Homo sapiens: one gene and its partner. The gene in region 1 interacts genetically with each later gene. Each region holds a gene or a part of one and is shown in the gene's direction. Other genes may lie near its edges.

Region 1 (3,500 bases):
CTGGGCTCCAGCAATCCACCCACTTTGGCCTCCCAGAGTGTTAGGATTACAGGCATGAACCACCATGCCTGGCCTAGGCTGGTTTAAAAGAATACAAGCACAAAAAAACTCTGCACTCAAATTTTTAAACTCATAAGGAGAAACTAAAATTTAGCTTGACCTTTTTAAAATAAAAGGTTAATTTTTAAGTGATTAAATACAGTTTATCTAAATCATTGAGGAGTCAGTGCAGAATGTTTGGTGCAGTAAATTATAATAAGTATTCAATATAAGGTCATTGGCCAAAGATACTAAAGGTTCTTGTTGTTACTTCATTGTTACACATATAAAGTGACAAAGGATTTAAACTGAAATCTGTTAGCTACCAATTTTTCTTGCACTGTTTGTTTGTGTTTCAGACTGGGTCTCGCCTCAGTCTCCTGAGTAGCTGGGATTATAGGCTTCTGCCATCACGCCCGGCTAATTTTTTTTTTTTTTTTTTTTTTGAGACAGTGTCTCACTCTGTCACCCAGGCTGGAGTACAGTGGCGTGATCTCGGCTTACTGCAACCTCTGCCGCCCAGGTTCAAGCGATTCTCTTGCCTCAGCCTCCCGAGTAGCAGGGACTGCAGGTGCCTGTCACCGCGCCTAGCTAATTTTTGTAGTTTTAGTAGAGATGGGGTTTTACCATCTTGCTCAGGCTGGTCTTGAACTCCCGACCTCATGATCCACCCGTCTCGACCTCCCAAAGTGCTGGGATTACAGGTGTGAGCCACTGCGCCCTGCCTAATTTTTGTGTTTTTAGTAGAGATGGAGTTTGACCATGTTGGCCAGGCTGGTCTTGAACTCATGACCTCAAGGGATGCGCCCGCCTTGGCCTCCCGCAGTGCTGGGATTACAGGTGTGGGCCACTGTGCCTGGTCATTGCTTTATTTCTAATGATTATTTTCTGTATATCTTCCTGGAATTTCAAAAAGAAATTTATTTATTTATTTATTTATTTATTTATTTATTTAGAGACGGAATCTCTCTATGTTGCCCAGGCCGGAGTGCAGTGGTGCAGTCTCGGCTCACTGAAACGCCTGTCTCCGCCTCCTGGGTTCCAGTGATTCTCCTGCCTCAGCTTCCTGAGCAGCTGGGATTACAAGCATGCTTCACCACACCCAGCTAATTTTTGTCTTTTTAGTAGAGACGGGGTGTTGCCATGTTGGCCAGGCTGGTCTTTAACTCCTGACCTCAGGTGATCCACCCACCTCAGCCTCCCAAAGTGCTGGGATTCTAGGTGTGAGCCACCGCGCCCAGCCAAGAAAATTATTAAAAGTAACATGTTTAATACATTTTCAGGATTTTTATTAGGTTCTTTTAGCCTAGTCATTTTGTTCAAATGTGATTTAAAATATATTGTATCAAGATATATTGGAATAAAATTCAGACATTACATGTTAATATCAAGTTGTAAGAAAATTATTAAAAGTAACTAACATGTTTAATAAATTTTCAGGATTTTTATTAGGTTCTTTTAGCCTAGTCATTTTTTACAAATGTGATTTAAAATACGTTTTTTCAAGATATGTTGGAATAAAATTCAGACATTACATGTTAATATTTATTAAGTTGTGTATCATTGTTATTCATTTCATATCTCATTTAAAATTTTGGTTTTAGACTGAAAATATTCCTGTGGTTAGAAGACCTGATCGAAAAGATCTACTTGGATATCTCAATGGTGAAGCGTGTGAGTACTTTTTAAATTGTTCCCAGTCTTAAACAGACATTGTTTCTTTTTTCCCCTATGAAATAATGATTAGAGGGAAGAGAATTTGTATTTCCACCAAAAAATTAACCTACCTTCATTTTTGTCCATGTGCTCACCTTTTTCTTATACAGTGGATGCACTGTCTTTGCCCTTATGGCCAGTCACCCCTTCCTTGTGTGTGGATTCCATCTCCTTTCACAGTCTCAAAGACTTTGTCTTCGTAAATTGTTGTTTCTCTGACATCATCAGTTTTCTACTTTCTTCTGGATCATTCCCTTTTAGAATACCTACAGTAAGATTTCATGTTTAAAAAATGTTTTTGATCCCACATTCCTACTGTCTACTGCTTCATTTATCTCCTCCCTGATACTGTAAAATATTCTGCAAGAGTTCGTGTGGTATCATTGCTTCTTTTTTACCTTTGTTTCTTTCTTGAAGCCACTCTAGTCTGGCCTTCATCCTTACCATCCCACTAAAATCACTCCTTGTAAGGTCAAAACTGATTTAAGGATTGCTACATCCTTTGGTCTCTTGTACCATACTTGACCTCTCAACAGCATTTGATACTGTTGACCACTCATTTTTGAAAGCCTTTCTTCATTTGGCATTTGGAACACCAGCCTCTTGGTTCTCTTTCTACTCGTTGTTCACCTCTCAGTTTATTTTGGTTACTTCTGTACCTGACCTCTAATTCTTGAAGTTTCCAAGACTTGATCTTTTTTTTTATCTTTTCTTTTAACCTGTATTCTCTAGGTGATCTCTTTCAGTTTTATGGCTCAGATATCATATATATGCTGATGAAATTTCAAGTGTTTTTTTCAGCATTGATTTCTTTCAGGGCACCAGATTTATAAATTTACTGTCAACATGTTTCCTTGAATGTTGAATAGGCATCTGAAATTTAACACTGAAAATGGAATGCCTGATTCCCTCTTTCCCTTCTGCCCTCACACAGAACAAAAACAAGTCTGTTGTTTTCTCAGTGTTCCCACTTTAGTAAGGGGTAGTGAGACGCTCTTCCTGCAGTTGCTTAGGCCAGAACTTTGGTGACATCTTTGTCACATCTCACATCCATTCTATCAACAAGTTGTTTTTTTCTCTTTTTAAAAGTATGACAACTTCTTACCATTCTACCTGCCCTATTTCATCCTTGCTTTTTAGATTATTGTATAGCTTCCTCACAGGTCCCCACTCTTTATTTCCTATAGTGTAGTCTTAGCAATAGAGTGTCCTGCTTTTGAAAAAGTATATAAACTTGATTGTGTCACTCACCTGTGGCTTCCCATCACTCTTAGAATAAAACTCATACTTGTTACCCTGGCAGTCATCTTGCCTCTGCCTAAATCTCTGTGACTCCATCTTCTACCATTCTTCCTTTGCTCATAACAGTCAGTCTTTTTGGTCTTTTAGCTATGCTAATCTTAGCACCTTTGCACTTTCTCTTTCTATCTTGAGTTGTCTTTCTCTACATTATCACATGGCTCACTTGCTTACTATTTCATTTAGATCTGTGCTCAAGTGTTTTTCCAAATGTTGTTCCATCAGAGAAGACTTCTCTGACCACTCTTATCGAAAATATAGTATTCCTTTCCTCCTTCTGTGGTTTTTATATAGTGCCATCCTGATTTATTTTTCACCAGATCTCATACATTGACCTGAAATTATATATCTGTTTATGTACATAGTGTCTGTCTTTCCCATTAGAAGGTAAATCCTAAGGGGACAGACAGTTGTTTGTCTTGTTAAATACCCAGCATTTACAATAG
Region 2 (3,500 bases), on another chromosome or scaffold:
GAGACTCCATCTCTTAAAAAAAGTAAAAATAAAAAAATTTTGGCACAGGGACAGTGGCTCACACTTATAATGCCAGAACTTTAGGAGTCCACAGCGCGAGGACTGCTTGAGGCCAGGAGTTTAAGACCAGACTGGGCAACGTAATGAGACCCCACCTTTAGGAAATAAATACATAAATAAAAATTTGACAATGATAAACATATATAAATTAGCTTTTCTTAGTCCTGAAAAAGATAATGTTATGTGTATGTGTGAGAATGATTAGTTCTCATATGAGAAAAAAAGAATTCATTGCTCTGTGTAGGTTGTGACATTTCCTTCACGATTGAAATTAATTAATTTTTTTTTATTACTTATTTATTTTTAAAATAGAGACAGGTTCTTGCTGTGTTGCCCAGGCTGGTCTCAAACTCCTGGCCTCAAGCAGTTCTCCTGCCTCAGCCTCCCAAATTGCTGTGACTGTAGGTGTGAGCCACTGCACTGGGCCAAAATTACTTAATTTTAACAAGATGATGTAGAGAGGAGAGTTCATTGCAACATAAGCCTAGAATCTTTGTCAGAATCTTAGGAAGTAATGTTTTCAAATTCTGTGTTTTCACCATAAAATGTGTCTTCTCTGTGTCCATCACATGGTTTTTCATTGTTTTCTGCTTTACCATTTTAGTACCATTGGCATTTTTCTTCATTGTAAAAGTAGTAGAAATGGAGTAGATTACATAAGGATGTGATCAGAGGGAATTTATTCATTCAGGGTAAGGGAGTTAGATCCTCTTTTAAGATTCTATCACATTCTAAGGGTTTATGATTCTAAACTGTCAAGTAAATTGTCAAGTGCTGGCAAGCTACAGAATAATTTTTATTGTATCATTGGAAATTTTCCCCTCTATATGTGTTAAAGAGTTTAGCCTGAAGGGATACATACACATACATATATGTAATCAAACCTTGATGGTATTGTATTGCTGATAAATTATTTCTTACCACTTTTCCTTTCTCCTGTGGGAGAAACAAAAGCATATGTTTGTGTAGTATCAGTAATGATATTAGAGAGTGGGAAACATCAGTGAGTGCAGTTTGGGGACTTTATTGGAGACTTTCACTAGTGCTCAAATAAATAATGCTGGTTTTTATCCTACTGTTTGCTTAATGTGGACTAGCCTCTTATTCCCATTCTATGTTTACCTCTCTTAAAATATTGGTCACGCTTTCTTGAATTATAGATCTATTAGGAAAATTCATGAACTGTAGCTAATTTTCATTGTTCATGCTCCAGATTTATTTTGAAATATCGTTAATCTTAGTAGTACAGTAAAGGAGAAATACCACTTAACATTTTTTGTTTTTTTTTCTTTGAGACAGAGTCATGCTCTGTCACCCAGTCTGGAGTGCAGTGGTGCTATCTCGGCTCACTGCAATGCACTTCGCCTCTCCGGGTTCAGCAATTCTCCTGCCTCAGCCTCCTGAGTAGCTGGGATTACAGGCACCTGCTACCACACCCAGCTAATTTTTGTATTTTTAGTAGAGACAGGGTTTCACCATGTTGGCCAGGCTGGTCTGAAACTCCTCACCTCAAGTGATCCACCCGTCTTGGCCTCCCAAAGTGCTGGGATTACAGGCTTGAGCCACCGCACCCCGCCCACTTAACATTTTAAATTAATTTCAAGATAATATCACTTGAATATTTTTACACATATAATTTTTTTAATACATTTATTTACACAGTTTATAATATCCTACAAAGTGATTACAATGAGTAAAAACCCAGTTTTCATTGTTCCTAAAGTGGCTTGATTTATACAACTTAATGTGTTGGGTATTTGTTTCTAAGACTCCCTCTGCTGTCTAGGTTTGGAAGTATTGTGAGGTTAACAGATTTTCTTTTTATAGTTACTACTCAGTTGAACAGGCTTTAAAATACAGAGAGAATCATATTTTTTCTTCATTTTTTGCTTTTATTTATATTTTTCTTTTAATTGGAGACATGACAAGAATTGACTTGTGTATGGATCTTGCATAATTTAAGTACTGCAGGTTTAAAATCTACTACCAGTTTGAGAGTGCCATTTTTCACACTGTAGATTATTAGGTTGAAAAGTATTATGGCTTAAAATCGCTTTTAGCCATTAAATTTAAATAACCTTGCTTTAATCATAAATAGATGGTGGTCACAATGACTAACTGTTAAACTCTTTGAAGACAGGATATTTGGCTTTATATGGCAAGCTTTTGAATACAACAGAAATTAAAACTTTATGGGATAGAAAGAATCTCCTCCAAATTGGTAAACTATAAGACCTTTCAAATGATTTAGCTAATTTCTCCACAAATCTGAGGTATTAGTGTTTTTTTTAAAGTGGTATTCTCCTGTGTTGGGGTCACTTTAAACCTTTTTCTTAATGATAAATATATGAATTGAAACTAATCCCTTAATATATATCATTTGAAAACTGAAATAATATGTTTAGATACTGTTTACTTGTTGATAAATTATTGGAATAGGATGTTCGAATACTGTTTACTTCTTGGTAAATTTTTAAATCCAATGGATTTTACGTAAGTATAGAACTGGAGCTCAAATACTGTTACTGTGTGTGAAGATATATGAACATAGTTTACAGTTGCATGGCTTATATCTAAAGTCCAGAAACATAAGGACAATTAAGTGTACACACACACACATGCATTTGGATTTTGATGACTTAGGTTTGCCAATGTGGAAAAAATAGTAGCAAATTAAGTTCTCCTGTGAAAAAGTCGTTACCTTATTTAAAATTCTGTGCCATTGGTTATCCTTGTCTTTTGTGAAAATTAGTGTTCCTGTTTATAATATTGACAAAACACCTATGCGGATGACATTTAAGAATTCTAAAAGTCCTAATATATGTAATATATATTCAGTTGCCTGAAGAGAAACATAAAGAATCCTTTCTTAATATTTTTTCCATTAATGAAATTTGTTACCTGTACACATGAAGCCATCGTATATATTCACATTTTAATACTTTTTATGTATTTCAGGGTGTTGATGATGCCTTCTATACATTAGTTCGAGAAATTCGAAAACATAAAGAAAAGATGAGCAAAGATGGTAAAAAGAAGAAAAAGAAGTCAAAGACAAAGTGTGTAATTATGTAAATACAATTTGTACTTTTTTCTTAAGGCATACTAGTACAAGTGGTAATTTTTGTACATTACACTAAATTATTAGCATTTGTTTTAGCATTACCTAATTTTTTTCCTGCTCCATGCAGACTGTTAGCTTTTACCTTAAATGCTTATTTTAAAATGACAGTGGAAGTTTTTTTTTCCTCTAAGTGCCAGTATTCCCAGAGTTTTGGTTTTTGAACTAGCAATGCCTGTGAAAAAGAAACTGAATACCTAAGATTTCTGTCTTGGGGCTTTTGGTGCATGCAGTTGATTACTTCTTATTTTTCTTACCAATTGTGAATGTTGGTGTGAAACAAATTAATGAAGCTTTTGAATCATCCCTATTCTGTGTT

What was found. Genes that interact genetically often act in the same process or in processes that back each other up.
Region 2: changes in CDC73 (region 1) and KRAS are lethal when combined (synthetic lethality), as found in Homo sapiens cells (2 studies listed by BioGRID, with this or other methods).

What each region holds. Positions count from the first base shown.
Region 1 is NC_000001.11:193,128,531-193,132,030, forward strand, and holds part of CDC73 (parafibromin), read left to right. Parts: intron 1-1,643; coding exon 1,644-1,713; intron 1,714-3,500.
Region 2 is NC_000012.12:25,209,430-25,212,929, reverse strand, and holds part of KRAS (GTPase KRas), read left to right. Parts: intron 1-751; coding exon of another isoform or gene 752-752; intron 753-3,018; coding exon 3,019-3,135; 3' UTR 3,136-3,500. UniProt on the Homo sapiens protein: Ras proteins bind GDP/GTP and possess intrinsic GTPase activity. Plays an important role in the regulation of cell proliferation.